Linked DNA regions of Homo sapiens: regions 2, 3 and 4 are each reported to be linked to region 1. The links are microRNA targets in miRTarBase. Many come from high-throughput screens and were not tested one by one. Region 1 holds a microRNA gene; each other region holds the end of a gene's coding sequence.
Evidence for each region. The annotated mature microRNA hsa-miR-1236-5p reads UGAGUGACAGGGGAAAUGGGGA and lies in region 1 at 5,075-5,096, shown strand. An mRNA with a match to its seed (bases 2 to 7 or 8) in the 3' UTR can be bound and repressed. Matches are read on the target gene's strand: a 7mer-m8 pairs with bases 2 to 8, a 7mer-A1 pairs with bases 2 to 7 and ends in A, and an 8mer does both.

Region 1 (7,150 bases):
CACAACTGTTTTTCCTGCAGATGTGTGAGCTGCGACAAAGACAGAGTCATGCCGTTCCAAGTGCAGGATGGCCTGTTTCTGAAACACATCTGGCTCAAATGCCCACTATGGGAGAGAGAAATAGACAGGAGCTGAAGAAAGGAGCGGGGCCTTGCTGCCTCCTGCTCATGGAGCACGCAGGGCGGGCGGATGAAGGCCGGAGCCAGCCGAGGCTGGGACTGAGTACCAAGACTGGCCTGGGATGGATCTGACCTCTGGCCAATAGAGGAGACAAGGGGTCGGCTGGGAGTGTGACCCAGAAAGAGGTAGAGGAGCGTGTGAAGATGGGGCCAAAGTACCTGGAAGGCTGGCTGGGGAATGAGGCGATAGAAATCACCAACAGGGGAGGTGGCGTCCACAGGGATGGCCCACTGCTCCTGAGATGGAGGCTCTGGGGCCTCTGGGGTGGATACAGCTGTGGACGCTTCCTGGAAGAGTCAGGGGTAGCAGTGATAAAGATACAACCAGAGGGCTCTCAATTAGCACTCCTCCCAAAAGATGTCCCTTTCTTCCCCTCAGACCCATCCTAGCCAGCCCACATCCTGGTGGCAAGGCTCTTTCTTGCCTCCACTACACAGAACCACCAACCTTCAACACTAGGTCTTCCAAGCTGCTTGCTCGGGCCAGGGGAGCACTGCAGGGAGAGGCTGAAACAGTGTCCCCTCTGGGACCTCCTGGCTGTCCCACTGCCTCATTCTCATCCTCGTCACCCCCACCCAAATCCAGAGGCTCCAACATACAGCTAAGGCTTAGTAGTCCAGGAGCTGGAGTTGGACAATCTGAGGAGCAAGCCAACAAGGTCAACCTTGTCATGTCCATCTCTGTTCCTTAGGAGAAGGACATGACTTCTCCTACACCCCACTCAAAAACTAAAACTAACCTTTTGGTGCAAAGTCCATGCCTTTCTTGAAACCAGGTGGAATAGTAAGAAGATCTGTAGGATAGGGACATGAAATCAGGTCACTGCACACTGGTGAACAAATTGTGTACATTATATAAACCTAAAAGATACCATTTACAGGACAGATGCTGTAGATAGGGATGTTTGCTATGACACTTTCCCAACAGATGACAGTAAAGGTTGTTGTAGAAATTTCCCAGCAGATGACAGTAAAGGTTGTTATGGACAGAATATCTTTTTCTAATTTTCTCAAAAACATGGGAGGGCTAGCAGTAGCCCAGTGATAGCCTGGGCTCTTCCTCCTCAAGGCTCAGACTCAGAGCCCCACCTTACCTTTCTCAAAGTCTATCTCCTCCTCAGCCTCCTCCCGTGTGTTCAGATCTGTTATGGTGGGTTCATCCATCCCCCCTGGGAAGAGACAGGACAGACAGGGATTCATGGGATGAGGGTAATACGAGATAGGTGGGGAACCCTTCCCTGGAGATTAAAGACACCCTCTTCTACCATCCCATCTCCACAAGAGTCACCTGGCCAGAAGGGATACTGAGTTGGATTTCCCCATAAGGACTGGGAGGCTGGCCCTGGAGGCCGGCGAAGAGACAAGGAGGTTGTAGCCGAGAGATTTGTGTTCTCCAGCAAGACCTAAGGCAAGAGATCAGAGCCCCAATGAGGCTGAGCTTGTCTCTGACCACCTCCCCTTCTCCCCAACTGTTTCTCATGACCCCTGACCTCCTACCTCTTTGTAACCCAGTATCTGGCCTGTGGTTGGGTGTCTTTGGGCCTGTAGGTCGGATGGGACTGGGGCTCCCAGGACAGCCAAAAGAGACCAGGGATCCGTCTTCCTCTGCCATTTTCTGGAGAGAAAAATAGTAACTTTTGGGTCTTCTTTCTTCCTCTGTCCCAGCTTCCTTCAGGAACCCATCACCCTAGTCTAAGCCCCTCCAGACTCCTCACCGGGCTGAGTGCTCCACACCATGCAGAGGCAGCCAGGCTGGGGATGACAGAAACAACTGTTCTGCTTCTTGCTGCAGATCTGGGGCACAAGGAGGGAGGCCATGGGGAAGCTGAAACAAGGGCAAGATGAGAGGCATTAGGTAAGGAAAGAGGATAAAATGCAGACAAAAGAGATGATGGGACTTGTGTTCAGATCAGAAATGGCAGATGTGTCAAACAGACTAGGACAATCAGGCTTGGCCAAAAACTACCTGCTACTGAATTACCTGGGGCAGATTTTGGATTTCAGAAACATGGAGGCTGGACCTAGGAATGTGCATTTTTAAAAAGCTCCCTGGCTAATCATGAAGCACACTGAAATTGGAGACTCACTGATTTTAGAAAAAGGGGTCCCAGACCTAAGGATGAAAGGTTGGAGGCTCAAAGCCTATCATCTCAGTCACCAAGTGCCCTGGTGCTTGGATACAGAAGGGAGCTCCACGGAGAAATGCCACATTTGAAAGAGCAGCTCTCAAAGCAAAAATATCCCCAGCCCTTTCTGCTCTGTCCTCACATGTACTGCAGGTACACTGGGCTGTAATCTGTCCAGCACCCCTTCAGGCTGGGATGGACAGGAGTACAGGCACAGATGAACAAGGTTAAGCTAGATCCTACTGTGAGGAGGGTGAAGGAGGTTTGGACTCAATGCGGGTCAAAGGTTAGGGTCAAAAGTCACTCACGCTACTCTCTGGAGCTCCAGGCAAGTTCAGCAGCTCCCAGTGCCCCGTGCATCCGAGCTCCACGGCCCGAAGGGGTAGGTCCAGGGGATCTGGAGGGGGTAGCACTACGGGGAAAGGTCAAAAGTCAGGGGTCAAAGTTCATTCCATATCGGCTACTCCGTTCCATTTCCCTCCCCTCCCCCTCACCAAGTCGCTCTGTCTCCATCATCCTGGAGCCACAGCAGCTGCCTGGCAGCCCGGAAGTGCGGCAAGTAGTCGCTGCGAAGTAAGCCCCGCCCCGGAACGGGCGGAAGTAGAGGCAACTTCCGGTACAGCCCCGCCGAGAGCGTGAACTATCGCTGCGGAGGGGCAGACCTGGACCGGTGGAAGGCCGGGCGGAAGTGCGCGCCTGGGGCCGCCTTGGTTACCGCGTTTTCCGCTCCTCGCTACGTCATCGTTGTGAGCCCGCTATCAGCGGCCAGCGCGGGCGCGGCCGGAGACCGTGGGGCCCCCGGTTGCCGCCCCCTCGGGTAAGGCCCTCTGCTTCTCACTCTTCGGCCCTTTTTCTCATAGCCGTTTCTCTGTTCTTCCTCTTTGCGTTGCTCTGCGGGCGCTACGCTGGCTCCACCGCCTTCTCTGCCGTTCAAACCCCGCGGTTGTCCTTACCCTAGCGAGGGTAGGGGGGTCGGGTGCCATCGTCTTTCCGACGGAGTGGATATTTGTCCCTCCTTGAACCACATGGTACCTAAAGGTGCTGGTGTCTGTGATCCCTGGAGACAGGAGGGAATGCTGGATGATCCCGACCAGCGGGAGCTTGGACAGCAGCCTGGTTTAAGCAAGGGGTAGGGAAAGCCAAAGACAAGAGTAGGCAGACCTGAAGGGGTGGGGTTGGGTACAGTGTGGACGGCGTGTGAACCCCGGGTGGTAACAGTGGAGAAAGATGTCTTGGGCCCTGCCCCTGAACTAGGAGCCACCATGTTGGTGATACCCCCCGGACTGAGCGAGGAAGAGGAGGCTCTGCAGAAGAAATTCAACAAGCTCAAGAAAAAGGTGAGGGACTGTGTGTGGACATGGCCTAACCTTTCACAGACTCTGCACTCTGAGAAGATATGGGGTGAGTGTGAGCGAATGGGGAAGTTTTTCTGGCCCATACCTAGAGACATATCACCTCACAGTGTAGCTTCGAGAGGTGGGCTTTCCCAAGCCTTGGTGTGGACCTTCTGTCTTTTCTATGCAATTTGCCATGGATTGTCTTCCTTTCCCATGGCTTTTAGTACCGCTTAAGAGCTGATGATCCCCAAGTTTGTTTTTTCCAGTTCTATCCAGTGTTATACTGAAAAACTTCAGATACTCAGTGTTGAAGCTATCATCTTTCTATTCTTGATCTTCCAAATAAGATTGACTACACCAATTCTGCCACATGTTTGGACTCAAAACTCTGACTTCCCCACTATTTGCATAGTCAAACCTTTGCCAAGTCTTATTGTTTCTTCTTTTGAAGTAATTTTTCCTGTTTATTCTTCACTGTGCATTCCCCCGAGCAGGGCTTTATTGACATTCATGTGGGCCATTGTAATGGTCTCTCAACAAATTTCTCAGTCTTTTTTTTTGAACAGACTTCTTCACTCCTGTTCAAATGATCCATTGAAAACACAAAATTCTGCTCCCTCTGTTTCTCAAAAACCATAAATGGCTTCACATTGTCTATAAAAAAGCCTCAAAACCTTAGTTTGGCAGCCTTGTCTAGTAAAGTAGAACTATTCACTACTTCCAAAAGATGCATTCCCAAAGCCTTCTTATCTCTGCATCTTTGCCACCCTGTTTTCTTTTTCTAAAATACCCTTCTCCTCTCTGTGTTGTGCAGAGATACGGGAGAGGGCCTAGTTTAATAGCCATTAAACATCAGAAAATCTTACTAGCTTTCAGCTATGAATAATCTGCACCTCTTATAATTGTATTGCTAACTCAATGTATTTTATTTCTCAGACTGTAAGCTTCTTGAGGGTAGGAACAATGCATTAGCCTCCTGGATATCCCTGTTACGAAGTCATGGCTGGGCCTCATTCAATATGCAGGAAATAGATGGATGAAGCTTCCAGGAAAGGCACATAAACTTATACTTACTTGCAGCTTATATCCTAGGATTCTAGTCCATGATTGAGTTATTTGTCTTCAACTTCAAAAATGTAACACTCTGGAAAACCTCTGGGTTCCGTGGTTTGGTTAGATTAGGAATTTCCAGCATCATACATGATCTAGGGGACCAGAGGCAAGAGGCAGAGCACATCAGTGTACCACTCTGAGGGCATCAAGAAAGACGGTCCCTGGAGTGATGTGCCCAGGGGCCTTAGGAGAGGAACCGGCTAGGGGCTGGCCCTCACTTACCTCTCTCTTCTCACCCTTGTTCCCAGAAAAAGGCATTGCTGGCTCTGAAGAAGCAAAGTAGCAGCAGCACAACCAGCCAAGGTGGTGTCAAACGCTGTGAGTGACAGGGGAAATGGGGATGGACTGGAAGTGGGCAGCATGGAGCTGACCTTCATCATGGCTTGGCCAACATAATGCCTCTTCCCCTTGTCTCTCCAGCACTATCAGAGCAGCCTGTCATGGACACAGCCACAGCAACAGAGCAGGCAAAGCAGCTGGTGAAGTCAGGAGCCATCAGTGCCATCAAGGCTGAGACCAAGAACTCAGGCTTCAAGCGTTCTCGAACCCTTGAGGGGAAGTTAAAGGTGAGCACAAGCAGAAAGATTGTTTAAAGGGCATCCCTCCAAGTTGGAATGTAGATGGGTTTGGGGAAAAATATGCATACTCAAGCACTGGCAAATTGCTGTACCATTCTGAGTTTCACCTCTCATGTATAAAATGAAAAAACTAGACGACTCCTGAATTCTCCATTTTACAAATTCTGTGGTTCTAATCCACCTTGGATTGGAGCTCTTGGAATATGTTGCCCTAAGGGATGGAAAGGGCTGAAAATGTTATCAGGTTCAAGAGAGGTTCAAATAAACTGAATACATAATATATCGAGTCACTTATAAAAAATACCAGCTGGGCGTGGTGGCTCATGCCTGTAATCCCAGCACTTTGGGAGGCTGAGGTGGGCAGATCACTTGAGATTAGGAGTTTAAGACCAACCTGGCCAACATGGTAAAACCCCGTCTCTACTAAAAATACAAAAATCAGCAGGGTGTGAGGCCGGGCGCGGTGGCTCACACCTGTAATCCCAGCACTTTGGGAGGCCGAGGCAGGCGGATCACGAGGTCAGGAGATCGAGACCATCCTGGCTAACAAGGTGAAACCCCATCTCTACTAAAAATACAAAAATTAGCCGGGCGTGGTGGCGGGCGCCTGTAGTCCCAGCTACTTGGGAGGCTGAGGCAGGAGAATTGCTTGAACCCAGGAGGCGGAGCTTGCAGTGAGTCGAGATTGTGCCACTGCACTCCAGCCTGGGTGACAGCGAGACTCCGTCTCAAAAAAAAAAAAAATTAGCAGAATGTGGTGGTGCACACTTATAGTCCCAGTTACTGAGGAGGCTGAGGCCAGAGAATCACTTGAACCCAGGAGGCAGAGGTTGCAGTGAGTGGAGATCACACCACTGCACTCCAGCCTGGACGACAGAGCAAGATTCTGTCTCAAAAACAAAACAAAACAAGCCACAATGGCAGGTGCGGCAATGGCTCATTCCTGGTTAATTTCAGCACTTTAGGAGGCCGAGGTAGGAGGATTGCTTGAGCCCAGGAGTTTGAGACCAGCCCTGGCAACATAGTGAAACCCTATCTCTACAAAAAAAAAAAAAAATACAGAAATTAGCCAAGCATGGTAGAGCACATCTCTAGTCCCAGCTACTAGGGAGGCTGAGGTAGGAGGATTGCTTGAGCATGGGAGGTCAAGGCTGCAGCAAGCTACGATTGCTCTATTGCACTCCAGCCTGGACAACAGAGCAGGACCGTGTCTCAAAAAAAAAAAAAAAAAATAAGTAAAACCACGTCAAATAAGAAATGTATGTAGAATTAAAAGGGAAGAAAAGATCAGAGGAAACCTAGAAGAGGGTGAGGGAAGAGGAACACCTCTGGTCCATGGTTGGGCAACCTCCTGCTCCACACTGAGGTAGGTCTCTCACCACTCCAGGACCCCGAGAAGGGACCAGTCCCCACTTTCCAGCCGTTCCAGAGGAGCATATCTGCTGATGATGACCTGCAAGAGGTAAAGGCTCCTAATTTCTGTCCCTGAGGGGTTGGGGATGGAGGAATATGAGAGACAAATATATTTTGGACCACATGTCAGCAACTGGAAATCATCTTAACTGTTCTTGGTCTCTTTTACAGTCATCCAGACGTCCCCAGAGGAAATCTCTGTATGAGAGGTTAGAGAGTAGAGATAAGGCTGGGCCCATTTGGTGGAGTTGATTGCCTGAGTCCTTGGGAGGTTTGGGCTGTAGGAGCTGGGCTATAGAGGGAATATTGAGTCTCCACAGGGTCTGAGGGGAGAAGGTAAAACCCCCCTTTGATCTTCAGTCTGCATCTCCCCAGCTTTGTGTCTTCTAGTGATCGACTTCGAG
Region 2 (7,150 bases), not on the chromosome of region 1:
CGGATAAAAATCTCTTTCCGGGTAAGCTACAGGCTGCTGTGGCCAGGGAATGGAGGCGGGGCTGGGGCTGGGGTCCGGACCGACCTTCCCTGATCCTCGCTTCGGGTCCTGCAGGTTAACCGAGAGATAGTGTCCGGCATGAAGTACATCCAGCATACGTACAGGAAAGGCGTCAAGAGTGAGTGGGGCCCCGGGCAGGGCAGAGGGGGCCGCTTGGGTGCGTGCTGCCAGGCGGGGAAGCGGGGCCGCTGACCGCCCTCTTCCTTGTGCCGCAGTTGACAAGACTGACTACATGGTAGGCAGCTATGGGCCCCGGGCCGAGGAGTACGAGTTCCTGACCCCCGTGGAGGAGGCACCCAAGGGTATGCTGGCCCGGGGCAGCTACAGCATCAAGTCCCGCTTCACAGACGACGACAAGACCGACCACCTGTCCTGGGAGTGGAATCTCACCATCAAGAAGGACTGGAAGGACTGAGCCCAGCCAGAGGCGGGCAGGGCAGACTGACGGACGGACGACGGACAGGCGGATGTGTCCCCCCCAGCCCCTCCCCTCCCCATACCAAAGTGCTGACAGGCCCTCCGTGCCCCTCCCACCCTGGTCCGCCTCCCTGGCCTGGCTCAACCGAGTGCCTCCGACCCCCCTCCTCAGCCCTCCCCCACCCACAGGCCCAGCCTCCTCGGTCTCCTGTCTCGTTGCTGCTTCTGCCTGTGCTGTGGGGGAGAGAGGCCGCAGCCAGGCCTCTGCTGCCCTTTCTGTGCCCCCCAGGTTCTATCTCCCCGTCACACCCGAGGCCTGGCTTCAGGAGGGAGCGGAGCAGCCATTCTCCAGGCCCCGTGGTTGCCCCTGGACGTGTGCGTCTGCTGCTCCGGGGTGGAGCTGGGGTGTGGGATGCACGGCCTCGTGGGGGCCGGGCCGTCCTCCAGCCCCGCTGCTCCCTGGCCAGCCCCCTTGTCGCTGTCGGTCCCGTCTAACCATGATGCCTTAACATGTGGAGTGTACCGTGGGGCCTCACTAGCCTCTAACTCCCTGTGTCTGCATGAGCATGTGGCCTCCCCGTCCCTTCCCCGGTGGCGAACCCAGTGACCCAGGGACACGTGGGGTGTGCTGCTGCTGCTCCCCAGCCCACCAGTGCCTGGCCAGCCTGCCCCCTTCCCTGGACAGGGCTGTGGAGATGGCTCCGGCGGCTTGGGGAAAGCCAAATTGCCAAAACTCAAGTCACCTCAGTACCATCCAGGAGGCTGGGTATTGTCCTGCCTCTGCCTTTTCTGTCTCAGCGGGCAGTGCCCAGAGCCCACACCCCCCCAAGAGCCCTCGATGGACAGCCTCACTCACCCCACCTGGGCCCAGCCAGGAGCCCCGCCTGGCCATCAGTATTTATTGCCTCCGTCCGTGCCGTCCCTGGGCCACTGGCCTGGCGCCTGTTCCCCCAGGCTCTCAGTGCCACCACCCCCGGCAGGCCTTCCCTGACCCAGCCAGGAACAAACAAGGGACCAAGTGCACACATTGCTGAGAGCCGTCTCCTGTGCCTCCCCCGCCCCATCCCCGGTCTTCGTGTTGTGTCTGCCAGGCTCAGGCAGAGGCGCCTGTCCCTGCTTCTTTTCTGACCGGGAAATAAATGCCCCTGAAGGAGCTGGGGGTGTCTGCTGCTTGGCTTCTCCAGGGTGTGGCAGGGGAGGGCCTGGCTCCTCTACTGCCTCACGGGCTTTAGGAGACAAAGGGGAAGATGGGGACCCTGGTGGGGTGGTGGGAGGGGAAGGGCAGGGCCCCCTTGAAGTGCTGTGGCTGCTGGGCCCCTTGCAACTATCTGGGGAGAAAGGAATGTGACTCCCAGCTACAGTAGCCCTAGGCAGCAACAGTCTAGAACAGTGCAGAAGGCCTTGGCTGGGGTTGCCCCTCCTTGCTAAGGGAATGGGAAGACGGGCCTGGCTTGTGTAGCTCATGCTGCCAGAGGGAGAGCTGCTTGATTCCCTGGCCGGGCTTGGAGGTGTCGAGTTGGCCCAGCTGTGCGCGGGCCCTCCAATGACTGGATCCCAAGGAAACCCAGGGAGGAACAGGCCCAAGCCAGGGTCGGCCTTGTGGCCCCTGGCGCACGTGGATGCAGCTGTGGCTGAGGCAGGAAGTAGGTGCCCAGGCAACGGGGGCCACGGAGGCGCCTAGAGCACCAGCCCTTCACAGCCACAGCCGCAGCCAAGTGCCCTCCAGGATCGGGCAGTGCCAGGAGCCCAACAGCGAAAAGGCTTGGTGTGATGGGATCGGCAGGAGACAGGGCATCCTCACTGCGGTGTGGTGTGAAGGGGCTACTGGGGGAACCACGCAGGGCCTCCTGGGGCAGGTGCGCTCAGCCAGGGGCCCCAACTGCTGCAGCATCCAGGAACCCCAGCTCGTCCGTGTCTGCAGTCTCCAAGAGCCCCCGGGAACTTCAAACCCATGCCCCTCTACCCTGCAGGGGGAAGAGGCAGATGAGTAACCAGGCACCCCTTAGAAGTGTCCATTCAGAAATTCTTTTTCTGGCCTGATGCGAGTTTCAAAATCTGCCTTCTGTGGTATAAGGTGTTGAGGAAAATACTTCACACACACACGCAGCTGGGCTGGGCAGCTGCTACCCCGGGGCCCTCCTACTGGTCATTCTGACACAGGCCATACTGCTCTGGGGTTTATCAGCAGGGTGGGCCCCGCAAGGGGCTTATCTCCAGCTGGGGTGGGCAGGGAGATGCCCTCATGCTTCAGGTCACTAACTACACACCTGTGCCAGGGCAGTGCGTGCGGGCACCACTGCCACCTTGCCCCATCCTTGCTAGGCCTTTGTGGGGGCCGCAGAGGCTGAGCCTAGAGCTGACCGTGTCAGACACCCCAACAGAATGGTGCCTTCCTGCAGAAGCTGGTCCAGACCCAGATCTGGAAGCAGCTATAGAGAAAGCCTGGGTCAGCCCCCAGCCCTTGATTCCGCAGGGAGCAAAGACCCTACCGAGCCTTTCCCAGAACTGCTACTAGCCCCAAGCGAGGTGGTCTCGTGTTGCGTTGCTGCTTCTGCCTGTGCTGTGGGGGAGAGAGGCGGTGGGGTGGTGAAACCACAGGATGGAGGCTAATCCCACTGGACAGACACCAGCACAGCCAGGGAGGATGAGCTCCGAGGCAGCAGCCCCTGCCAGACAGTTTCTCCCACGCTCCCAGTTCACTTCTTACATGCTCCAGGGGAGTCCCCAAGCCCAGTGCCAGGGTGTTGTCAGCAGTTCGGCTCATCGGGCAAGGGCCTTCTGAGCTTGGGCTGAGCCAAAGGGCTTCACCTTCTTGCTCCTGGATTTTCCCAGCTTTGCTAGACATGTGAACTCAGACCCAGGTGCCAAGCTGTACGGGCATGCTGCCAGCAGCCAGGACTTTGGGCTGGCCCCTCCCCTGGTGCAGGATAACATGAGGTGGCACCTGCACAGTGGGCATGACGTGTCTCTCGGGTCCCAAGTCTAACCTGATCCTCGTGGCCCCACCTGGGACCTGTTTGTATGGCCTGGCGCTCCAGAGAGGCCTCCTCGCCTCCAGCAGCCTGCGCCTGCAGTCTCCTCTCCCAACCTCCACAGGTCCGTGGCTCCCAGCAGTCCCCTAGCATCCACCTCCTCAGCCACCCCCAGGTGGACACTTCTTCCATTCAGGAGAGTGACAAGTCACAGTGCCAGCCAGTGCTAGGTCAGGGTCTGGGATGTGACCAACTAACCATGGGTTACTGTGGTTTCTGAGAACCTTCTCTGTGCCCAACACTGCCCTGCACCATAATGAGCGCCTGCCACACTCCGCAGGGCCCACACTCACCACCGCGCTGCTGCTGGATTTCTCACCTCCACTCCGGGCACAGCAGGCTGCTGCTCAGTGGGAACACAGGAGGGACCTCGGAGCACTGCCCAGGTATCCATGAGCCTGCTGTTGTTACCCCCACCACACCTTCGACCGGACTGAAGGTTGAAAGGGAGCTGTTTTGCTCTGAGAACTCTACTTTTAAGAGTAGTAGCTGGCCAGAAGCAGATCACTTGAGCTCAGCAGTTCAAAACCAGCCTGGGCAACACAGGAGACCCCATCTTTAAAAAAATAAAAATTAGGTGGGCATGGTGGTGCACAACTGTAGTCCCAGCTACTCAGGAGGCTGAAGCAGGAGGATCACTTGAGGCTACAAGGCAGAGGCTGCAGTGGGCCATGACTGCACCACTGTGCTCCAGCCTAGGTGACAGAGTGAGACCCTGTCTCAAAAGAGTAATATTGTACACACAGTACATTTCAAAAACTGCATCAATCAAAACATTTAATCACAAACCAGTTGGCTGGGCATGATGGCTCACGCCTGTAATCCCAGCACTTTGGGAGGCCGAGGCAGGAGGATCACGAGGTCAGGAGTTCGAGACCAGCCTGACAAACATGGTGAAACCCTGCCTCTACTAAAAATACAAAAATCATCCAGGGTTGGTGGTACACGCTTATAATCCCAGCTACTCAGGAGGCCAAGGCAGGAGAATCGCTTGAACCTGGGAGGCAGAGGTTGCAGGAGAATCGCTTGAACCTGGGAGGTGGAGGTTGCAGTGAGCCAAGATCACGCCACCACACTCCAGCCTGGGCAACAGAGGGAGACTCTGTCTCGAAAAAACAAAAAACAAACAAAAACCAACTAAGCAACATTTAATGGATCCCTTCACCAAGCCTGAGACTCCCTAAAGGATGTCTGGAGCACCTGTGATGATCCAAAGAAATACCAGCCACAGGAGGGCTCTGACCCCCAAGGGCACACTCCTCGAAGGGCCTGGGCATGAGGTGAACACAGCCCATCTTCTCACCCTAGGGTTAGAAGGCACAGGAGCAGGCCTCAGGAAAAGGACATCAGCCCTCTGCAGGTGCCCAGCGGAACCAGCCTGCATTCTTGGGGGCAGGACCCATGCCCTGCACATTTCCATCCACTCAACAACCCCCATAGAGGGCGTCTCAGGCCATCGCAGACCAGGCTTCCTCCTCCAGCCTTACCAGAAAGTCCACCTTTGCTGCACCTGTCAGGTTGGTGTAGGAAGCCAGTCCAAGGGCAGAGGCACCTTGAGAGGACCCTATGGGCAGCCATGGCATCTGTCTAAGATACTGTGATTCGGCTGGGCGTGCTGGCTCACATCTGTAACCCCAGTGCTTTGGGAAGCTGAAGAGGGGAGGATCCTTTGAGGTCAGGAGTTCAAGACCAGCCTGAGCAACATAGCAAGATCCTGTCTTTAAAGAAAAAAAATGCTGCCATCTATCTAGATTAGTGCTGGTTGGGCACCTGATTTTCACAGGAGAATGTCAGGTCGGCCACAGCCACCTGGGCTGCTGTTCTGTAGCCCTGCCCTCTGCTACCCTGGCTAGGCCTTCACCCACACTGAGGTGTGTTCCACTGGCCCAGAGCCAGCCTGAGACTCATCCACGGCCACTGGGATCCTTGCCTGGTCTGTGTGCCTTGAGTATTCACCACTTGGTCCCAGTTTTCATTGTCTGTGAACACTTTTCCTTTTTACTTTATGCTCTGGCCTAAGCTGCCGCCAAACCATCACAAGCTAATCAACATTATGGTATGTCAAATCTCTTCACTCTTCCCCCAACAGTGGACAAAACACAAGCTACAATATTTAGGCATCTGAACTCTGACCTCGTATCTAGATGTGGTACAAATATGGGCTGGGGTTTTATGTAAGATACAGGGTCTCTGTCACGCAGACAGAAGTGCAGTGGTATGATCATGGCTCACTGCAGCCTAGACCTCCTGGGCCCAAGCTATTCTCCTGCCTCACCCTCCAAAGTAGCTGAGATTATAGGCATGCAACACCATGCCCAGCTTGTCTCAGGCCCCAAACTGTGGTCTGTACAACAGCTCATGGCAACCACAAAAACGTTGGAAGATAGTGCAGTGACCTGAAGCAATTTCCATCATCCAGAGAGCAGAAGGAACAATGCCTGCAATCAAAACCATTTATGAAGAGATGGTGTTTCCTGAGTGGGCTCCAGGCCAGTGCTCAGGGAGGCACATACTCATATTCCTTCTTGGCCAGAAAAGTCACCCGGAGGAAGCAGACAGTTCTCCCAGCAGGTACAACTTATGCCGCTGACTGACCTTTGCTCCGCTGGCACTGGGGGGAAGGGAACAGGGGACCCAGTCTTGACCACAAGGAGCTCATATTCTAGTGGAGGGAGTTCCCTGTCGGAAGGAGAAGCATGTTCTCAGGAACAACTGATCAACAAACAGAAACTCTCAAAGTACAAAAGCAACTTACTCTACGTTTTACCATTTCAAAAGTCAGGATACTATTGCAGTCAATGTGTATACATTTAACATGGGAGTACCTCCCTTTTGCCTGCCAAGTTTCAACTTTAAAATCAGTGGCGGTGCCGATTCCCAGCGGAGGAAAGTGAGGAGGAATGGAGAGGGCAGGCACCTGGGGAAAAGGAGAGCAGCAGATTCCAGGCAGTGAGGGAGACGGAGGGCTGCCAGTGTCCAACACTAACAAAATGCAGACCATCTATGTAATTTTAAAAGTTTCTAAAAGCCACGTTAAAAGATAGAAGAGGAGGCCTGGTGCGGTGGCTCACGCCTATAATCCCAACGCTTTGGGAGGCCAAGGCGGGTGGATCACCTGACGTCAGGAGTTCGAGACCAGCCTGGCCAACATGGTAAAACCCTGTCTCTACTAAAAATACAAAAATTAGCTGGGCATGGTGGTGCATGCCTGTAATCCCAGCTACTCGGGAGGCTGAGGCAGGAGAATCGCTTGAATCCGGGAGGTGGAGTGAGCCGAGATCGCCCACTGCACTCCAGCTTGGATGACAAAGTGAGATTCTGTCTCAAAAAAATAAAAAATAAAAATTTTAAAAAAAGGACATTTTTTTACTATTTTTTGAGATAGGGTGTCGATCTGTCGCCCAGGCTGGAGTGCAGTGGTGGGATCATGGCTCACCGCAGCCTCAGCCTCCTGGGCTCAAATGATTCTCCCACCTCCACCTCCCAAGTAGCTGGGACCACAGGTGCACACCACCGTGCCTGGCTAATTTTTTTAATTTATTTTTTGTAGAGACGGGAGTCTCACTATGTTGCCCAGGCTGGTCTCGAACTCCTGGGCTGAAGGGATCCTCCTGCCTCGGTCTCCAAAAGTGGTGGGATTA
Region 3 (7,000 bases), not on the chromosome of region 1:
CACACTTAACTGGTATGACTTAAACCCACATATTTTTCTCTAAAATGGGGATAAAACTTAGCTCACACGGTAATATAAAGGTCAAATAAACTTCTATGAAAACACTATGTTATTACAAAGGAAGTTTATGTATTCTTTGGGCATAATTTGGCCACAAGGAATTTCTGTTCCATTGCTTCTATGTTGGCCACATCCCCAAGCACCTCAGGATAGAAAGATGTGCGCTCGGCTTGCACTAACTGGCCTTTCTCCTTCTGTTCAGTTTAACCTGCTGTTTGGATGCAGCATCTCTGACTACCGGACATTTTTCAGCTCAGCAGTGACTGTTGTTGGTCTCCTGATGGGAATTTCTCACCAAGAGGAGGTAAAAATAATAATTTGTTTCCTCACAGAATTCAATATATTGAACAAGGAAAATTGGGGGGGTCCTTATGAAAACAGCCCCCTACTGTACACTGCACACTGGAAAAGGGGGAAAATTTCAGTCCTTTGCTCTACTGCTTTATGGTACTGCCTATGCATACAGCATTTACATGGCTGTTGCTTTCAGAAACCTGCCCTTTCCTAAGCACTCAGTCCCTCCTTCCTCACTTCTTGTGTCCTTAATCTTATTGGCAAAGGACACTGAGCCGAAGCTTGTGCTCTTGTGCTTGGCCAGATTAACAAGATTCTCTGCTTCTCAATGGCCCCTTGAAAGTGCATTAACAGGGTAGGGTAAGTTGGTTCAAGCCATGAGAGGCCAAGAAGGGGAGGACTGCTTGAGGCCAAGAATTTGAGACCAGCCTGGGCAACATAGAGACTTTGTCTCTACTAAAAATAAAAAATAAAAATTAGCCAGGTGTGGTGGCATGCACCTGTAGTCCTAGCCACTCAGGAGGCTGGAGGCTGAGGAGAGAGAATCCTGTGAGCCCAGGAGTTGGAAGCTGCAATAAGCCATGATCATGCCACTACACTCCAGACCCTATGTCTATTTAAATTAAAAAAAAAAAAAAAAAAAAAAAAAGGCCAGGTGCGGTGGCTCATGCCTATAATCCTAATACTTTGGGAAGCCGAAGCCAGCGGATCACTTTTGAGGTCAGGAGTTCAAGACCAGCCTGGCCAACATGGTGAAACCCCATCTCTAATAAAAACACAAAAATTAGCCTAGCCAGGCGTGGTGGTGCACACCTGTAATCCCAGCTCCTCAGGAGGTTGATGCAGGAGAATTGCCTTAACCTGGCAGGCGGAGGTTGCAGTGAGCTGAGATTGTGCCACTGCACTCCAGCCTGGGCAAGACAGTGAAACTGTCTCAAAAAAAAAAGTGACATAATGGAAGTGACAAAGAATTAGGAAGGTACAGTTCTAAGAGAAACTGCGTTATTTCTGTTGAGTTAATAACTACTCACTTCAGAGAGCCTATTATTTCCTCCCAGGAACTACCAACAGAAATCCCTGCCTTCCTCCTCAACATATAAAGTAGGAAACCCAAATGAGGCACTGGGCTCCAAACCCTGGTATGTAAAGGGTAGATATGACCAAGCAAGGAAAAACCTGCCATTTAAGCAGTGAAACTGGCAAGATTTTGATCATGGTTGATCATTCTAATGATCTAGAATTCCAAAATTACTAATTAAAATGGGTAGGTTCAGTTTCTAATGTTGTATCTGCAGGGTCTGCATCCACAGATTCAACCAATCCCAGAATGAAAATATTTGAAAGGTAACAATAAAATATAACACACATTTTAAAATACAGTAGAAGAGTCAGGCATGGTAGCATGTACCTGTAGTTCCTGTTACTTAGGAGGCCAAAGTGAAAAGATTGCTTGAGCTCAGGAGTGAGGATGCAATGAGCTATGATCATCCCACTGCCCTCTGAGCGAGACTGTCTCCCACAAAAAACCACAAACCGGTGTAACAACTATTTTACGTAGCAGTTCCACTATAAAGTACTAGAGGTAATCTAAAGTTTATTTCAAGTATAAGAGAGATGTATATAGGGTTTATGCAAATACTGTGCCATTTTTAAAAAGGGACTTTGAGCCGGGCACAGTAGCTCACGCCTGTAATCCCAGCACTCTAGAAGGCCAAGGTGGGGCTGATCACTTGAGGTCAGGAGTTCAAGACCAGCCTGGCCAACATGGTAAAATCCCGTCTCTACTAAAATACAAAAATTAGCCAGGCATGGTGGTGGGAACCTGTAATCCCAGCCACTCAGGAGACTGACTGAGGAGAATCGCTTGAACCTGGGAGGTGGAGGTTGCAGTGAGCCAAGATCACGCCACTGCACTCCAGCCGGGGTGAGAGCAAGACCATTTCAAAAAAAAAAAAAAAAAAAAAAAGTGGGGGAGAAGACACTTTCTTAACCTTTAGGGAAGCTTGCAATTAAAAAATAAAAATAAGGGACTTAAGCATCCTCAGATTTTGGTACCTGTGGGGGCCCTGGCGCCAATCTCTCTCAGATACTAAGGGACAACTGTAACTGCTGTTTTGGCTGACTAGGCTGTGTTCTGTTGTGGTTCTAGCTCCAATAACTAGGGGATGAGCCTTTGCCACTGCAGCACTTCGTATCCTAAAGCTGTGAAGGAAGTAATCAGAGTAACAAATTTTTGCTGACACCTCCTTTTGGGGATAAAAAAGGAACTTTTCTGCTTTGGATGTAATTGTACATAAAAATACAGTAAACATAAAGTAAAAAACATTAAAAAACAAATAGAGCAAACAAAAAATAAACAGTAAAATTGTACATAAAAATAAACTTATTGGAAATAAGTCTTGTATCACAAACTCAGAGATTGCCCACATTATCTGGTTGACCTGAAATTGTTATAATAATCATTTTTAAGTAGGTAAAACAGTTTGGTGCTTGAAAATATTTTGCCATATAGATTTCCATCAGGGTGGCATTGACTGTAATCAACCCCTCTGTTGGGATATTTTTAAACAGTGCCCTAGTGGCAACAATGAATGGGCCAATACCAAGGGAAAATAAATACCATTTGTTGAAAAAGAACATCTAAATTTTAAACAACAGTTTTTGTTATGGGAACCATTCCAATAAGCCCAGAACTTGATATTTATGTATGCAGAAAAGTAAAGAATGGCAGAACTCAATGCTTGTACCTTTAAAAATGACAATGGAAAAAAAAAAATACTAAAAAGCCAGTTTTCTGTGGCCAACCTGTTAACTTTTATTGGAATGCTCCTGTGTTTAGGGTTGTAGTTTCTTGATATGGCAGAGACAGTGTGCATTCTCATTTCTGGTATGCATTTAATCTTTCAGTGTTTGCTTACCCCCCTCCCACTTTTAGCTTCCATGATTAGATGTATTTTTTGCCAAAACTCATGTGACATTTGAATCATTTCCAATTCCACTGCAACTCACCTGTTTTCTTGTGAAAGCCCTGCAGTCACAATTATCTTAACCTCCTTAAAATGAGTCATTCCTGCTCTTCTGTCCATTTAAAAGTATTTTCCTTCTTATTATCTTTTGACTCTCTCCCTAAGTTTCCTTCGGATAAGCTTTTCTTCTGATAAGATCCCAAACACTAGCATATAGCTTATGTTTGTAAAGTATAAACTAAATTGTCAGTCACTGCAAGTGTTCTTATTGTTTTCCCAGGTTTTCGCTTTAGACCCAGTCCTGGGCACCTTTCTGATCCTCACCAGTGTCATCTTGATGGTACTTGTGGTAATTAATCTTTTCGTTTCGGCCATTCTCATGGCCTTTGGAAAAGAAAGAAAGTCGCTTAAGGTAGGTAACTAAAAGATAAACTAGCATGCTGTTATATCACTGGGAAAGCTCCACTGTAACTGCCCCTAAGATGACGGGCTGACATAATTTATAATGCACAGTATCATATTCCCTTTATTAGTTTCAAAAGCTCTGCCAGCTATCTTCCTAGGAAACCCAATTTATAAGACTACATAATATTCTATAGCCATTGTCCTATAAATAGTTGGCTCGCAACCATTAGTGGAAACACTCCAATGCCTGACTGCAAATTATTAAAGAAATAGTATCTTTACATTTACTAATTTTTTAAAAATCTTTGGTACTTTTTTTACTCCACTATTAGCAGTAATTTCAATTTTCTCACTTTTCTCTTTTTGTCTTCAATACTCAGAAAGAAGCTGCACTAATAGATACACTGCTACAGAAGCTCTCAAATTTGTTAGGAATCAGTTGGCCCCAAAAAACCTCATCTGAGCAAGCAGCCACGACAGCAGTGGGCAGTGACACTGAAGTTTTAGATGAACTACCTTAATCCTGTTATCTCCTACTTGGCTTAGTATTTATTAGCGTATTACTACTTATCTTTGCATGGCATAGCTTTAAAATTATAATATACTTTGTTTTTAATTCTGTAAGTTAGGAATCAAAATCCCCTTGGTCCCAAGTTCTTATGGATCTTGGCACTGTCAAGATAGGATTAACAATGCAAGAATACTACGAGACAAACTAGCTCTGCTGCCAAGCAGCAAGTAACAGAACTCACCACCCATGGCCCAGGATGGCTGCGGGAAATGAAGCAGTCAGAAGTGAGCTCACTGCAACTTACTAAAAATAAACATCCAAGGATGAGGCATGGCAGATGCGGAGCCCTGCCACTGAGGAAGACCAAGGAAATTCACAGATGCTATCTGGGCTATCTAAATACAGAGATCAAAATGAGCTCTGTACTGCTCCAGGAATCCTGAAACTAAGGGCTGGTTTACATGGATCACTTGGTTAAAATATTCTCCACTAAAATCCAGATTTATACTTCATCATCTGACCAAACAGTAGAGAAAGCAGGACACAGGATCTTTAACTTTATTAGCAGCTACTGAGCTACAGAATACAAACCAACTGAAAACATTAAAGAAAGGCTGCCTGAAACAAGTATGTACAGGTATACTACACAGAAGCAAAAGCTGTATCATCCAATCCCAAAGCCACCCCTGTGGGGAAGGATGACCTTAGCTATGGGCCAAAGGAGTAACAGAAGTTATGACATAAGAGTCCCATCCATCCAGGAAAGCAGTGAACAACTACAGCTGCATGGGCACCAAAAATTTTTCTGAGATTAGTTTTAAAGGTTCCATGAATCAAAGTTTTCAAATGAAAACAGGTACCCCTCTTTTCCTGTAGGCTTTCCAGCTCACTACCCAAAAGACTTGAGTACTTCTATTAAGGCAGCTGGAAGCCCACCCTAGGACTTGAATGGCACCTTGTCCTTTCTCTGCCAGTAATGCAATCCAACACAATATGCTACAGGGAAAACAGAATTTCCACGGTGCCGCCCTCTGGTACAAGGGAAACAGCACGCAAAGCAAAAGGCCACAGAGGGCTCCCTGAGAATCCAGTACAACTAAGCGAGGCCTTCAACTGTCAAGACAAACTTTGCAACTGGATCCCGGTGGGACAGTGCCCTGCAGCGAGGAGTACTGTATATGCCAATGAGAGGGCCCAGCTTCCAGGAACCGTTACAATGGCGTCCCGAGTCATTTTCCCTCTCCCACTTGCATTCGAGAGTGAGAAAACACACAAGGTGGCCTTGATTCTCACTCACCACAATCCCCCTGTACAGAGGGGTCTGTTTCTAAGTCTGGAACCTCAACACGAGGCTGGGATGCTTCACAACGTGCTCTCTCCCACTGTCCAGCCATCTTTGGTGGTCTTCCCACAGTGCTTCCCCCATCCTCTCACACTCCTGTGGAGGGACCATGGGACGGGCCAGGAGGAAACCTGGGATCACTCTGACAGGAAACGGACAAGCACAGCTGCCAGGAGCCAGTTGCTCTGGCCTCAGTCTCCAATTGTTAGTCTCAGGATCAACAGAGAACTGGAAAGCAGCAGAATCTGGAGGAGCAGGAAGAGAGCCCAGAGGGAGTGTTGTGCTGAGTGACGGTTAACAGATGAAACAGAATTTCATGGAGATTCTTTGTTACAAGGAGAAATTGCTCAGTCTCAACTCCCAAAACGTGAAAGTTGCCTGGTTTAAGAGACCTATGTTTTCTTTTTCAGCTCTTCAAACCTCCGGGAAAGATCATCAAAGTCAATGTCTTCAGATGCTGAGGTGCTGGCACCAGCAGATGCAGTTGGTAGTGTGTCTGGCACAGATGGCAACTCTGGTAGGACAAAGTTGTCATAGTTATCTGCAGGTCTGGAAGGAAGCTTTGCAGAGGCTTCTGGCTTGGGTCCAGGACCTAATTAGGGCAAGGAGCACAACGTTACAAATACCAGAGAAATGACTCAGATCCCCTTTGGCAGTAAAAATAAAATGATCAAAACACAGGAGAAAACCTTAGTTCACAAACTTTTTTTTTTTTTTTTGAGACAGTCTCCCTCTGTCACCCAGGCTGGAGTGCAGTTGGCGTGATCTCAGCTCACTGCACCTCTGCCTCCTGGGTTCAGGCAATTCTCCTGCCTCAGCCTCCTGAGTAGCTGGGATTACAGGCGCATGCCACCACACCTGGCTAATTTTTGTATTTTTAGTAGAGAGAGGGTTTCACCAGGTTGGCCTTGAACTCTGATCTCAAGTGATCCACACACCTCAGCCTCCCAAAGTGCTGGATTACAGGTGTGAGCCACCGCATCTGGCTAAAAAAAAGTTAATTCTAGAGGCTAATAAACATTTGAATGACAGTTAATATCTACATTTTCTAATTAGGGTTGAATCCTGTTTTACTTTCCTGTGGTGAGAAAAAAGTTTAAGGGAAATCAAAGTGGGATACATGGGGCCACATCCACAGAGCAATCGACTGTTCCTTTTCATAAGGTCTGTTACTTTACCAACTAAGTCCAAGGAGTGATAATAGGATTCTGATAGAACAAACACTGCTTCCTTAAGAACCAACATTCTTTAGGGATTGGGGGCAAAGTTTTTTTAAAGGAATATAATGTCCAAGTTATTTTGTTATAATAGTCTGATCTGTATTTCCAGTCTTCCATCTAGTATTTTATATTAAGATCATGCCCCCACACACATCTACTGTATGTTTCCTTAAGTTCTAGATTCAGGAAAACTAAATTACAA
Region 4 (7,150 bases), not on the chromosome of region 1:
GAGTCCAGATGCCCCAGAGGACGAGGCTGGCATCAAGAAGGCAGCAGAGAACAGTAAGACCCCAGCCCCTCCTCCACATCCTCCTTCCCCTGCCCCCCAGGAAAGCGCTGGGCGGTTCCTCAGCCTAGCTCCCTTATTGGGCCCCTTGGCAGCTTCCCTCTACCCACTCATGCCCCCTCCCCCAGTCAAGGCCTTGATTGAGCATGAAATGAAGAACGGGATCCCTGCCAATCGAATCGTCCTGGGAGGCTTTTCACAGGTGAGGGGAGAGGGGTGGGGGGGTAGGGGGTAGGGGTGGCCGGTGAGTGAGCTGTGCCCTCATGACCCCTCTCTCTCCTCCCTCCAGGGCGGGGCCCTGTCCCTCTACACGGCCCTCACCTGCCCCCACCCTCTGGCTGGCATCGTGGCGTTGAGCTGCTGGCTGCCTCTGCACCGGGCCTTCCCCCAGGTGAATGTCCCCACTGACCCCCCCGCCCTTTGTGTCTGCATCCTCGTGGCTTGGGGACTGCTGCAGCACTAGCTTTGCCCTGAGTCCTGTCCGGCCTCCAGGCAGCTAATGGCAGTGCCAAGGACCTGGCCATACTCCAGTGCCATGGGGAGCTGGACCCCATGGTGCCCGTACGGTTTGGGGCCCTGACGGCTGAGAAGCTCCGGTCTGTTGTCACACCTGCCAGGGTCCAGTTCAAGACATACCCGGGTGTCATGCACAGCTCCTGTCCTCAGGTCAGTGGGGGGACCATTTCCCACTCCCACTTCTCTGCCTCCAGCCAGGTGCCTCTCGTGATCCCCTCTTAATCCCCTCAGGAGATGGCAGCTGTGAAGGAATTTCTTGAGAAGCTGCTGCCTCCTGTCTAACTAGTCGCTGGCCCCAGTGCAGTACCCCAGCTCATGGGGGACTCAGCAAGCAAGCGTGGCACCATCTTGGATCTGAGCCGGTCGAGCCCCTGTCCCCACCCTTCCTGACCTGTCCTTTTCCCACAGGCCTCTGGGGGCAGGTGGCAAGGCCTGGCCGGGCCTTCCTTCCTGGCCTTAGCCACCTGGCTCTGTCTGCAGCAGGGGCAGGCTGCTTTCTTATCCATTTCCCTGGAGGCGGGCCCCCCTGGCAGCAGTATTGGAGGGGCTACAGGCAGCTGGAGAAAGGGGCCCAGCCGCTGACCCACTCACTCAGGACCTCACTCACTAGCCCCGCTTTGGGCCCCCTCCTGTGACCTCAGGGTTTGGCCCATGGGGCCCCCCCAGGCCCCTGCCCCAACTGATTCTGCCCAGATAATCGTGTCTCCTGCCTCCACTCAGCTGCTTCTCAGTCATGAATGTGGCCATGGCCCCGGGGTCCCCTTGCTGCTGTGGGCTCCCTGTCCCTGGGCAGGAGTGCTGGTGAGGAGGTGGAGCCTTTTGAGGGGGGCCTTCCCTCAGCTGTTTCCCCACACTGGGGGGCTGGGCCCTGCCTCCCCGTTACCCTCCTTCCCTGCAGGCCTGGAGCCTGTAGGGCTGGACTGAGGTTCAGGTCTCCCCCCAGCTGTCTCACCCCCACTTTGTCCCCACTCTAGAGCAGGGAGGCAGTGGGGGAGGAGTTGTGTCTCGTCTTCTGTCTCCATGTGGTTTTTGGGTGTTTTTCTTGTTGTGTCCTGGATTCCGATAAAATTAAAGAAATTGCTTCCTCAACGCTCAGGCCTGGCTGATTCTATTCCAGGGGTGGATAGTGACCATCTGTGAGAACCTGCCCCAGTGTAAGAAAACTTGTTTTTATTTTTAAATACTTTGGAAAGCTCTTTCAGAGCAATATAAATGAGTGCCTGGGAGGAGGAGGTTTTGTGCCAGAGCCTTGCCCCCTCACTCACTCTTGGGGGTCCTGATGAACTCTTGGACCCTGTGGAAGATAAGAGTTAGAGACCTCGGCCTCCTGGTCAGTGGAGCCCTTGGCCTCATGCCTGGTGGGCTAAGCGGGCCCAGCTGGGGTTTGAGGTAGGGGAGGCCTTGGCTTGGCCCCAGCAGCTCCAGGGCCCTGAGTTCCTGCCAGAGGCTGGAGAGCAGGCAGCTGCTGCTTTTCCTGGTCCTTGGTAGGGGAGGGTCCTCAGGCTTGCGTGCCAAAGCCTGAAGGATTCTGCTTCTGCCAGCGCCAGAGATCCTCACCTGCAACACGGCGAGGTGTGTGCTCAGGGCCCACGGTGGAATGCAGAGCCTCCCCCACCCCACAGCCCGCCCTGGGTGGGCATGCCCAGATCTGATTTAGCCCCTCCCTGGCCCCTAACTGCAGGGGTCAGGCCAGCACTCACACATCCTGTCCAGCCCTAAGGCTGCTGTCCACCCCAGCTCCTCTTGGGCCAGGCTGGGGTTGGCGTAACAGGCTGCCACATCACCTTCCCGCCGTGCCACCACCTTGTACGGGATCTGCAAGACAGGAGGTAGTTGGAGCTTAGCTGAGCCGGCCCTGGCCCAGCTGCTGGCCAGGTCTTTAAGAAGCAGAAGTGCAGAGCAGCGGCTGGCCCGCAGGCACCGGGTGCTAGGCAGGCTGAGGAGACTGGGCAGTGCCAGGTACCCTCCAGAGAGGTGAGTGGGAAGGGCCAAAGCTGCTCTGTTGCTGAGAGCTGGGTGGGGTGAGGTGGGTGAGGTGGGTGGGGCGGGGGGGCCTACCTTCTTCCCAGAGGCCTTCTCCATAGCCTGGACCATCTGCAGCACTGAATAGCCTGTGCCCGTGCCCAGGTTGTAGATCTGGCCCACGGAGAACAGGGTTTATGGAGCGGGCTGGACTGACCACGCCTCTGGGCCGCTCTGCCTGGATCTGGTCCCTCCCCTCCCTCACTTCTCCCTTCTCTTCCTACCCGGCAGCCACACTGTTCTTTCAGCTTCCTTAAGGCTGCAATGTGGCCCTTGGCCAGATCCACGACATGGATGTAATCCCGGACACCTGCAGAGAAGGGAGTGTGTTGGATGGGGAGTCTGTTCCCCCTGACTCTCCTTCCTGGCTCCCACTCCTAGGTCCCCCTGGTCCTAGGCTCACCTGTGCCATCCTCTGTGTCATAGTCATTGCCAAAGACATTCAGGGCCTCCCGTCGCCCGATCGCCACCTGGAGGTGGAGATCAGGTCAGTTCGTCCCAGATCCCAGGCACCAGCTTTAACCCCAGGGCCACTCCTCTGTCCCTTCCCTTTTGCCTTACCTGGGAGACATAAGGCATGAGGTTGTTGGGTATGCCCTGGGGATCCTCACCAATGCAGCCAGAGGCATGGGCACCTGTGGGGTTGAAATAGCGCAGCAGCACTGCGTTCCAAGTCTGTGGGATGTGGGTCAGGTGGTGAGGCCAGAGGCACAGGCAGCGTGTCCCAGCTGAACCCAGAGCCCTCCTCATGCCTATTCTGTTTTTTTGAGATGGAGTCTCACTATGGCCCAGGCTGGAGTGTAGTGGCCTGATTTGGCTCACTTCAACCTCTGCCTTCCAGGTTCAAGCAATTCTTGTGCCTCAGCCTCCCGAATAGCTGGGACCACAGGCACACACCACCATGGCCGGCTAATGTTTGTATTTTTAGTAGAGATGGGGGTTTTACCATGTTGTCCAGGCTGGTCTTGAACTCCTGACCTCAGGTGATCTGCCCACCTGGGCCTCCCAAAGTGCTGAGATTACAGGTATGAGCCACTGCGCCCGGCCAGTTGTCTATTTATTATCTTTAGAAACAAGCAGGGGATGGGGCCCTCCACTGCAACTGCCTGAGCCTTAGCTTCCTCCTTAGTGGGGGTGTTCGGAATCCCACCCCTGGGCTCAGGGTGGGCCCTGAGGAGTCCATCGATCAGTGGAGCCAGGGCACTGTCAAGGGGGCCCTCACCTTGTCTGCCTGGCACAGGTCCCGGATCATTTCCTCGATGAAGAACTTGGACTTGCCGTAAGGGTTGGTACAACCACCCGTGGGGTGGGCCTCATCAAGGGGCAGGTACTGGGGGTTCCCGTACACAGTGGCTGAGCTGCTGAACACCAGGTTCTTCACCCCGTGGGCCTTCATGATCTGGCCGTGGAGAGATGGCATCAGTGACCTCTGCCTCACACATTACTCCCACCCTGTTACTCCTCCACAGGAGAATGGGGCTGAGGTGATGAGCACTCTCATTTACAGATGGGGAAACTGAGACTGGGAGGTAAAGACATGAGTCCAGGATGATACAGCTTGGGCTCTGTGTTTGGCACTGCCTGCCAGGCTGGGGTCCAGCTGGACACCCTCCTAGTGTCTGTGCCCTGTCCCATGCCTCTCACCTCCAGAAGCTGGATGGTCCCGGTCAGGTTAACTCTGTAATAATCCAGAGGCTTCTGCACCGACTCGCCCACGGCCTTGAGCCCCGCAAAGTGGATGACCGCCATAAAGCTGTACTGCAGGGGTGACATGGCCAGAGGTTGCTCTACTGGTTTTAGTCCTTGGCAATGCCCTCAGCCTGCCTGCCTGCACTCACCTTTTTTTTTTTTTTTGACAGTCTCGCTCTGTTGTCCAGGCTGGAGTACAGTGGTGCCATCTCAGCTCACCGCAACCTCCACCTCCCAGGCTCAAGCCATCCTCCCATGCCAGCCTCCCGAGTAGCTGGGACCACAGGTATGGGCTACCATGCCCAGCTAATTTTTGTATTTTTCTGTAGAGATGGGGTTTCACTGTGTTGAGCAGGCTGGTCTTGAACACCTGGGCTCAAGTGATCTCCTCACCTCGGCCTTCCAAAGTGCTGGAATTACAGGCGTGAGCCACCGTGCCCAGCCTGCACCCACCTTTTTGAAGAGACGCTGTAGGGCTCCCTGGTCCAAAATGTCCATCTCCTCAAACTCCACAGAGCGGCCTGTCAGCTCCTGGACCCGCCGCAGGCTCTCAGGCAGGGAGCCCCCTCCTGGTAGGGTACATGTAGGCCACATCATCACGACATGGGGTGCTGTGTTCCCAGGGACTAGCCAGACACACATTCCCCGCCCGGTGGTGGAGGTGGAACCCAGGGTTTTGCTTCTGCCATCCCCTCAAGTAGCCCCAGCCCCACTGCCCCGCTCACCACGGAAGGCATTATGGAAGTTATCGATGACCACAGGCAAGTAGCCAGCCTCCAGCAGCTCCAGCACCGTGTGGCTGCCAATGTAGCCAGCCCCACCTGTTACCAGCACCTTCTCTGCCATGGCACCTGGCCCAGGATACAGAGTCTCAGAGGTGGCTGAGGCTGCCTGCTCAGAGCTTCCTTCCCACTGGAATCCTGCCCCCTAAGCTCGCTTTGGAAGGAGGCGGCAGTGTGCCCTAGGTACCAGACTGGCTCAGAAGTCAGCCCTGGGGCAAGTCTGGGTACCATCACTTTCTGGCCTTAGGCTTTGGAAATTAATTAGCCTCTTGGCCTCAGTTTCTATCTCTGTAAAACAGAGCTAATAATTGTATAAACTTCATGAGGCAGCGTGAGGGTTCAGTGAGGTGATCTTAAGGGCCCGCCACAGCAGAGCTGGGGAGACCTGACACACAGGCACCTTATTTTCTAGTTCCACTTGCCTTGGAGTTGGAAAAGATGGAATCTGAGGATCCACACTTCTTTGTCCAAGGTGACTGAGGACTGGAGAGTCCTGGGCAGAAGGAAAATGGCAGCACGATTGGGACTCCAGGGTCGCAGGAAGGGGTTCTGTCTGCTCAGACCCAGGCTTGTCCAATGCCTCCGCCTTCGCTAGGTGTAAACTGGCTCCTGGGCGCAGTGACTAATACCTCCTGCTCTAGGCGGCCCCCACCCCCTTTCCCTCAAGGGTCAGCTGGGAGGAAGCAGGAAATAGATCACATGGCCTCAAGGGTGAGGTCCTTTGCCAGGCAGGCTGAGGCCAGCTCAGGGGCAACCACACCGTGGTTGGTCCTGGAGGGGGCCCCACCCCAACCCCCGCTCAGCCTCTGCCCATGCCAGGGCCAGCCCGGTCACTCCTGGCTCAGAGTTAGGAATCCCGCCCAACTTAGGCTACTCTGGGTGGGCCGTGTAGACGTGGACTTGGCCAGGTGCGCACCTCCACCCTGAACAAACTCTGCGGGTAGTACGGGGAGGAAGCCCCAGACACTGAGGCCTTTCATTCCCAGCGACCGGGCCCGCTGCCGCCTTCCTCCACGCTGCCTCTATCCCCTTCTGGGCTCACGCAGCTCCAACCCACTTGACCAAGAGCCCTCTGCGTGCCAGGCTCCGTACCAGGCACTTTTGCATGATTTTCCTGAATTCCCCCAGCATCTCGGTGAGACAGGTGTTATCACTGGCACTTTACAGATACAGATACTAGGGCCAGAGAGGTGAAACAGTTGCCCTTCGGTCCCACAGCTGGCGACAGCGGGCTGGAATCTGGATCGCCAGGCTCGCAGCCCGGCCCTCTCCCCAGGCGGCTCGCCCTTCCCCCACCGCTGCCCGCTGGACTCTGCCCGCCGCGCCGAAGCCGCCCCCGCCCCCGCCCCGCGCCTGGCGCGGACCCCGAAAGTGGTCGCAGAGAGGCCCTGGGAAGCACGAAAGCTGGTCTGAGGCCGGCTGCGCCCCCGACAGCGGAGTGACCTTGCTCAGCCGTCGCCCACTCGGTTTTCCCAGTCTGTCTGTTGGAGGGAAGGGGAGCTAGGCCGTGGGCATACGAGGGCGGCTGGGTCTCAGGCTGGGCTTTGGGCTGTAGCGCGGAGCGGGGCCGAGCTAGGAGTCCTCAGGCCGGCAATGAATGAACCCCGGCCGCCCCAGCCCGGGCAGCGGGGAACTGGGACAAAGGGGGCGGGCCTGCCCTGGAGGGACGCTGCCAGGAACACGACCCGCCCCTCGGAAACTCCCTCGCTCCCCGCGGACTCCCCGGCCCCTCGCGAGCCCACCCGGCCCTTCATTCCGTCTCCCGAACCTGCTCGGGTTCCCGCGCCCCACGCTTGCTGCAGAGGCACCGCCTCCTACGCCCGAGCCGCGGGCCCTTTAAGTGCTGACGGCCCACTCCGGCCCCGACCCCGCCCCTCCACGCCCCCAAGGAAACATGTCACTCGGGTTACGGCCACTACGGGGAGGGCGGGAGGACAAAAGGCCTCCGCGCTGTGACGAAGACTGCGCAGCGCGCGCCCGCGGAAGGCGGAAGTGGGCGGTGCCACCCCGCGAGAGGCGCCGCCGGCGCCAGGTCCCAGTAGCGGGTGGGTCCTTGCCGGTGCCCCGGGTCCCCGCGCTAGCTC

Region 2: miRTarBase lists ARHGDIA as a target of hsa-miR-1236-5p. Seed matches in the 3' UTR shown: 7mer-A1 at 1,326-1,332.
Region 3: miRTarBase lists IST1 as a target of hsa-miR-1236-5p. Seed matches in the 3' UTR shown: 8mer at 5,863-5,870.
Region 4: the mRNA of LYPLA2 is a reported target of hsa-miR-1236-5p. Seed matches in the 3' UTR shown: 7mer-A1 at 1,161-1,167 and 7mer-A1 at 1,173-1,179.

Annotation. Positions count from the first base shown.
Region 1 is chr6:31,954,864-31,962,013 of GRCh38, reverse strand. It overlaps MIR1236 (microRNA 1236), which reads left to right and starts at 5,074; the gene lies at 5,074-5,175. It overlaps NELFE (negative elongation factor complex member E), which reads left to right and starts at 3,043. Exons shown (of 11, transcript NM_002904.6): 1 at 3,043-3,122; 2 at 3,560-3,642; 3 at 5,004-5,073; 4 at 5,176-5,321; 5 at 6,721-6,795; 6 at 6,918-6,955; 7 at 7,122-7,150. The coding sequence starts at 3,568. SKIC2 (SKI2 subunit of superkiller complex) reads right to left here and starts at 2,839. Exons shown (of 28, transcript NM_006929.5): 1 at 2,800-2,839; 2 at 2,614-2,717; 3 at 1,895-2,004; 4 at 1,677-1,794; 5 at 1,468-1,582; 6 at 1,274-1,348; 7 at 920-973; 8 at 628-818; 9 at 339-467; 10 at 1-105. The coding sequence starts at 2,821. RefSeq lists an enhancer at 1-249.
Region 2 is chr17:81,862,201-81,869,350 of GRCh38, reverse strand. ARHGDIA (Rho GDP dissociation inhibitor alpha) reads left to right here. Exons shown (of 6, transcript NM_004309.6): 4 at 1-21; 5 at 115-178; 6 at 276-1,630. The coding sequence ends at 475. LOC124904086 (a long non-coding RNA gene) reads right to left here. Exons shown (of 2, transcript XR_007065950.1): 2 at 1,595-6,188. Among named protein-coding and RNA genes, the nearest start is that of P4HB, 5.2 kb to the right of the region's middle. RefSeq lists enhancers at 237-386, 101-729, 730-1,359, 1,360-1,988, 2,619-3,247 and 1 more and silencers at 547-596, 1,307-1,396, 1,747-1,806, 4,824-5,118.
Region 3 is chr16:71,926,784-71,933,783 of GRCh38, reverse strand. It overlaps IST1 (IST1 factor associated with ESCRT-III), which reads right to left. Exons shown (of 10, transcript NM_001270975.2): 10 at 2,585-6,170. The coding sequence ends at 5,971. PKD1L3 (polycystin 1 like 3, transient receptor potential channel interacting) reads left to right here. Exons shown (of 30, transcript NM_181536.2): 28 at 263-364; 29 at 3,601-3,732; 30 at 4,106-4,246. The coding sequence ends at 4,246. Among named protein-coding and RNA genes, the nearest start is that of IST1, 35 kb to the right of the region's middle.
Region 4 is chr1:23,793,878-23,801,027 of GRCh38, forward strand. It overlaps LYPLA2 (lysophospholipase 2), which reads left to right. Exons shown (of 10, transcript NM_007260.3): 6 at 1-53; 7 at 186-259; 8 at 347-448; 9 at 550-723; 10 at 805-1,662. The coding sequence ends at 855. GALE (UDP-galactose-4-epimerase) reads right to left here and starts at 6,877. Exons shown (of 12, transcript NM_001008216.2): 1 at 6,835-6,877; 2 at 5,489-5,559; 3 at 5,010-5,135; 4 at 4,738-4,853; 5 at 4,240-4,353; 6 at 3,818-3,994; 7 at 3,157-3,270; 8 at 2,999-3,065; 9 at 2,820-2,905; 10 at 2,632-2,709; 11 at 2,274-2,388; 12 at 1,722-2,130. The coding sequence starts at 5,130. The coding sequence ends at 2,072. RefSeq lists silencers at 6,288-6,387, 6,438-6,917, 7,078-7,150.